2 separate regions of the Homo sapiens genome follow, and region 1 is linked to region 2. The links come from fine-mapping of genetic effects on gene expression. A gene starts in region 2. The other region holds a variant in brackets. All regions are shown on one strand. Distances are between the middles of the regions. Region 1 overlaps RYK (receptor like tyrosine kinase). Region 2 holds the start of RYK (receptor like tyrosine kinase).

The links.
Region 1: its variant is fine-mapped to the expression of RYK in blood mononuclear cells (TOPMed, PIP above 0.99).

The regions. Positions count from the first base shown.
Region 1 is chr3:134,210,726-134,213,639 of GRCh38, reverse strand. It overlaps RYK (receptor like tyrosine kinase), which reads left to right. Exons shown (of 15, transcript NM_002958.4): 3 at 2,033-2,132. Among named protein-coding and RNA genes, the nearest start is that of RYK, 39 kb to the left of the region's middle. The variant AAGT/T (reference allele first, on the strand shown) is at 1,462.
Region 2 is chr3:134,249,510-134,252,423 of GRCh38, reverse strand. RYK (receptor like tyrosine kinase) reads left to right here and starts at 1,565. Exons shown (of 15, transcript NM_002958.4): 1 at 1,565-2,001. The coding sequence starts at 1,770. RefSeq lists a silencer at 1,391-2,210 and an enhancer at 1,546-2,324.

The DNA.
Region 1 (2,914 bases), 39 kb after region 2:
TGTGGGAGAAGGTGGGAAGACATTTGTGAAGAGGCAGAGAGTGTAGGAGGCTGTTCTGAATAGGGAGGTTCTCAGAATGGGGAAAAAACAGAAGGCCTGCAACAGTGTTCTTGACAGACCCAGGAGGGTTTGTGTCAGAATCCCTGGGGCCAGCAGTGGGCTGATGATTATGGAGAAGTGCAGCATGGCAATAAGGTAGCTGTTCTGGAATGACTGCTGATGCTGCTGATGTCAGAGGAGACTTGTGCCAGGCTAACAGTATGTATTGCATTAATGATCTTATTTGATCCTCATAACATGTATTACCCTTATTTTACAAAATATGGAAACTCAGAGAAGTTACAAATTTACCTAAGAGTCACATGGTCTCATGGTTCCAAACCCAGTTCTTGCTGGCGGTGCTGATTTCTTTTGTGCACCTACCCTTCATGTATGGTCCTGTTCAGAGATAGCATCGGTGTAGGGATGTATAATGCATTCTTTGATGTATTGCTGGAGAGCTTGCTCATTCCCTGCCCAAACTTGCTTGGCTGTGGCTCTCTAGCACCCCCTGGTGGCAGCAATGGTATTGTGATATGCTAAGGTGAATGTGAACACTTCCTAGCCAAGGTACCTCGAAGTCACTGATGTGCTGCAGCAAGAACATTTCCTTTGTTGGGAATGTGGCACTTATCAAACACAGCCTTTAACAGTTGTTTACGTACCTATCTTAACTGCAAAGGAAGAGTTTAATGTTTGCATACCCCTACAGTGTTTAGCTAAGACACTTTAAATAGAGTGTGAAAGGAGAAACCCCAAGGGGAATCAAATTCTGGACTGAGCCCTTCTTATTCATGGGTAACAACGCCTTCCACCTTAGCCCAAGCGTAAGGGCCATCCCTTCCCTTATATCTGGGATGATACTCTTTCCCTCTTTTCTTTCATCTTTATTATGTACCATTTCGTTAGCTTTTTTCACTAGCATATATACATATTTGAATATCTCATCTAAAAACAAAGAAAAGCTTTGGAACACCCCCCACTTCACCATCTGTCTCCCATTCTTCTAGTTAAGTTTCTTGAAGAATGGTTTATCGAACATCTTTCTTCTCACTCTTTTCCCAACCTGCTGCCTCGTGGCTCTGCAAATCTCAGTCTGCCACCAATGATACCTTTTGTGACCACTGAATGAGAGAGGGATACCATAGTTATCAAGAACCTGTGGGCAGGGCAGAGAGTGATGTGAACTGTAGGGCTTCATTGAAAGTCTTGATGCTGGCAGCCATTCTGAATTTCAGCTATTGCTTTGCAGTTTGAGCTGCTTCTTTCATGAACTCTCCATAGCAACAGAGCCTTAATTATTGATGCTGATTGGTTCTGTTAAGCCACATTGGGTAGGCCAAGTATTGATAGATAACATTGGTGTTTTAGAGACATCTCATGGGTTGCCTGTCTTCCCTTCTGGATTCTGAATCACTTAAG[AAGT/T]AGATCCAGAGGTCAAATGGGGATCTAAACATGAACTTTCTTTTTGGTGAGAGCAAGACTAGAGGATGTGACTTAGATATTCTATGAGAAATCTACCTTGGAATCTGCTTATTGTGTGAGTGGGTCTGCAGAGCAGACCTTCCTCCACCAGCCACAAGGAGGCCCTCCGAGCTTGGCTTTCATTTATCAACCAGAGAAGGCATTGGTAGCTATTTATGGTCTGTCAGTTACATATCTCACCGCTTTGGTTCTTCATATCTGGCTCTCCATGGCCTCTCTGTCAGTGCTGCATAGTTCTCAGCAGGATTTCTGACCCTAGATGGCAGGTTTTATGGAAGAGTGGTGGTCCTGTTGTGGACTTAAAATAGAGGGTGGCTTACTTGGTTGAATTTTTATCCAATTGAAAATTCTTAGGACTGTTTCTGACAATTTGCATTTTTTTATAGCTAGATTATTTGTACATATGAAAGGCTCATCCATTGATTAATGAGCCAATTAATGAAGTCAAGCTGATAGTATCCTTCTTGTTATCACAGGTCCATTTTGTTTATTTTTGTCTATTTTACAGGTTGAATATAAGCTGGGATTCCAAGTGGACAATGTTTTGGCAATGGATATGCCCCAGGTCAACATTTCTGTTCAGGGGGAAGTTCCACGCACTTTATCAGGTAAGTAAGAGTCTTCAAAGACAGAGTTAACATACTTTTTCAACTGCATCCCCTATGGCCCCAAAACAGAAGTTTACTGATGTGTAGTGTGTATTACTTGATAGGCATAAGATGTATGAGTACTGTGAAAAGTAATTTTTGTAAATATTTGCACTGTGTTCTTAAACCATTCTCTCTTTTCTGTCCTTCTGGAACTCTCTGTGCTCCGCCCTCCCTGTCTCTTTTTCTGCATTGCTGGTACTTACCTCCACATGAGTCCCTGTGCCTGATCTTGTTTCCCTTTGATTAGGCACCACATTTCACCCTGTGGCCCAGATGATCTTTGCACGGTCATGTTTGACCCTGTGACGTGAAGCCCATCAGTGCTCTCCACTCCCATCAACTGAACATTCCAGACTCACCACCTTGTGTCCTGGATCCTTTACCATCTGCCCCTGCCTGCCTGTCTAGCCTTGTTGCTGCACTTGCCCCAGAGTTGTAGCAGTTCCAGACTACATGCAGTTCTGATCTTCAAGCCTTTGCATGTGCTGGTCTCAGTATTTGGGATCATCTTTTCCTCTTTCTGCTCGTGAACTCCTTTCTATTCATCCTACTCATTCTGCAAGACTCAAGATCTGCACTGTCTTTTTTCTGCCACCTTCTCTTCTTTCATTTGTTAACTTCTATTCTTCCTACCCCTTAGAACCTTATATTTAACTGTTTTTGCACTGATTACATATCTAGCAATTCCCTTGATGCATAGCATAGAGTATGGTGCAGGATAGGCACTCAGTACAGTCTGA
Region 2 (2,914 bases):
CTCCCCTCTTCCTCTTCTCAGCCTCCTCCGGCAGGATGAAGGGTGTAAGATTTTGTGCTGAGGCGCTGAAGCTTGACAAATTGAGGCCAGCCTATCTCTAAATGGAATCCGTGTATCTTGCTAGGGAGGGAGAAAATCAAGTTCCAGCACTTCCCTCCTTATCAGCCTCTCCTTTTCCCTACCCTTCCCTGAGGATAAAAATAACCGCTTCCCAGGGCCTCACTGCGATGGAGCAACTGTGCCCCGAAGCCAGGCCTAGCTGTCAGAGCAGCTGCTCCCCGAGGCACGGCCCCGCGAGAGCCTTGGGGTCAGGACGGGGGCCTGTCCGCAGGGACGAGGTGTCCCAGGACAGGGCAGGGGCCCTTGGAGCCTCACCAAGAGAGGGGGCACTGGTGCAAGTTTGACCGCGATGGTGGGCGGCTCACAAAAATACATCAGGAGGCCCGGAAGTCCATGCACTGGCTGGCTCCACCGCCTTTAAGTACACGAGGTCTATCTGCAGTTCTTAACCTCTTTGAGGGCACAAGGACTCCCTAGAACAAATGATGACATACCACCTCTCTGTGTGCAATCAAGCATACACACAACACACAGAAACATGGACGTGGACACAAATACGCACGGAGACACATACACTTTTGCACACAGTTTCATATTATTGGAAGGCTGTCGAAGCCTGGTATGGACCACAGATTAACAACCCCAAAGGCAGGTTGATTATAGTGATGCAGAACGATTATAAAAAAAATAACAATTTGGCAGGGCGCGGTGGCTTACACCTGTAATCCCAGCACTTTGGGAGGCCGAGGTCAGTTGATCACGTGAGGTCAGGAGTTCGAGACCAACCCGGCCAACATGGTGAAACCCCGTCTCTACTAAAAATACAAAAAAATTAGTCGGGCATGGTTGCGGGCGCCTGTAATCCCAGCTACTCGGGAGGCTGAGGCAGGAGAATGGCTTGAACCTAGGAGGCAGAGGTTGCAGTGAGCCGAGATCGTGCCAGTGCACTCCAGCTTGGGTGACGGAGCAAGACTTCGTCTCAAAATAAATAAATAAAAATATAAAAATAAATAAAATTTTGTAACGTAAAAATAGGGTTAGTAAAGCGTGCTAAGATCTTTCTGGAAAACAAATATATGTAGTATAAATTCTAATAATAGATACGGAAACGATAAAGTTGATCACCGATGGTAAGATAAAGGATGATTTCTATTTATTTGAGTTTTCCCACTAAACAGGAAAGCATGCTGCTTTTTCGCAACCAGAACGGCCGCATCCAGGCGTTTCCGGGGACCTGGGGCGCCCACTGAGCTGCAGGCGCGGCCGGTGGCTCCAGCCTGGCCCGTCCGTCGGGAAAGGAGGGTTACAGACAATAGACAAGCAAACATTAGACGCAGTGACCGCGTGGGGCGGGGACCGGCTCTTGCGGAGAGGGTGACCCGAGCCCTTCGCCCGCCGAGGCACTTTAAAACCCCAGCGCGTTGCCCAGGCCGGCCCGCCCAGAGCGAAAGGTGCGTGCGCGCTCCCGGGGAGGCGGCGGCGCGCACGGGCGCGTCCCGCGGGCAGCCCCCAACTCCGGACGATGCAGCGAGGAGGCGGCGGCGGCGGCGCGCTCCGGAGGTCTGAAGCCACTGCTGGCTGCCACGGGCCGGCGGTGCGATGAGCTGGGCAGCCGCCCCCGGCTCGGGGCTGTGAGCGGCTCGGGGCCGGGGGTGGGCGGCGGTGCGGCGGGCGGCCGACGCTCCTCTTCGGCGGCGGCGGCGGCGGCCATGCGTGGGGCGGCGCGGCTGGGGCGGCCGGGCCGGAGTTGCCTCCCGGGGGCCCGCGGCCTGAGGGCCCCGCCGCCGCCGCCGCTGCTGCTTCTGCTTGCGCTGTTGCCGCTGCTGCCCGCGCCTGGCGCTGCCGCCGCCCCCGCCCCGCGGCCCCCGGAGCTGCAGTCGGCTTCCGCGGGGCCCAGCGTGAGTCTCTACCTGAGCGAGGACGAGGTGCGCCGGCTGATCGGTGAGTGGGGCCGCCGAGGCCGGGGCGGGCAGGTCGGGCCGGCTGGGGCAGCTTCCGGCCGCCGGCGGATCAGTCTGCGAGCCGTGGACCTCGGGCGAGTACCCTCCCCGCCCCCCGCGCCCGGATTCGCCTCGCGGCCCGGTCTCTGCCTGCCGTGCTGGCTGGGAGGTGTGGTCCCTGCCCGGTCCCCAGCTCTGGGTCAGCCTTCGTGCCGCCCTCGCTGCCCCGCCGCGATAGACCCAGATTCACCCCATCCCATCCTCCTCACTGCCTCCTTAGCCCTTCTCCCTAGAAGAGTCAGTCACCCTTACAACTTTTTTTCCTTGCTGCACGAAGTTTTTTTGACGCTTTCTATGTGTGTCACTCTAGGGCCCTCGATTTTGAATATCTCGAAATTCACGTTTTAGACTGAACTTGCAAACCCTTTGCTGTGGTTTTGATGCTCCAGTAGAGGCCACGCTCTGTGCTTACCCTTTTACAAAAAAAAAAAAAAAAAAAAAAAAAACGAGAGAGAAAGAAGGGGAGGTTATAAGGGCACCAAATGTTCGTGGCAGCCTCCAACTCTTGGGACGTAGATTTGGAGCATATGCTTAGATTCTAAGCATATTTTTAGTGAATGAATCGCCAGGTAGCAGACCTTTTTAGTTTCAATACCTTTTTGGTTTTTGCATTGGGTGTGTTGGGAGTTTGGACTGACTCTGTACTTCTGGGCCACTCTCCTACTTTTGAGTATCTTGAAGGGAAACAAGAACTTAGTCTTGGGTCGGTTTGTGGTTCCATTTACTTGCTTAGCTTTGTTGTTTGGGGAATTAATTTGAAAAATTGCTGGGGTCTTATGTTAGGACTTTGTGGATTCTGGAAATGACCCCTTAGAGGAAGATCTGACAGGAACGACCCCCCAAAAAGGAAGTCC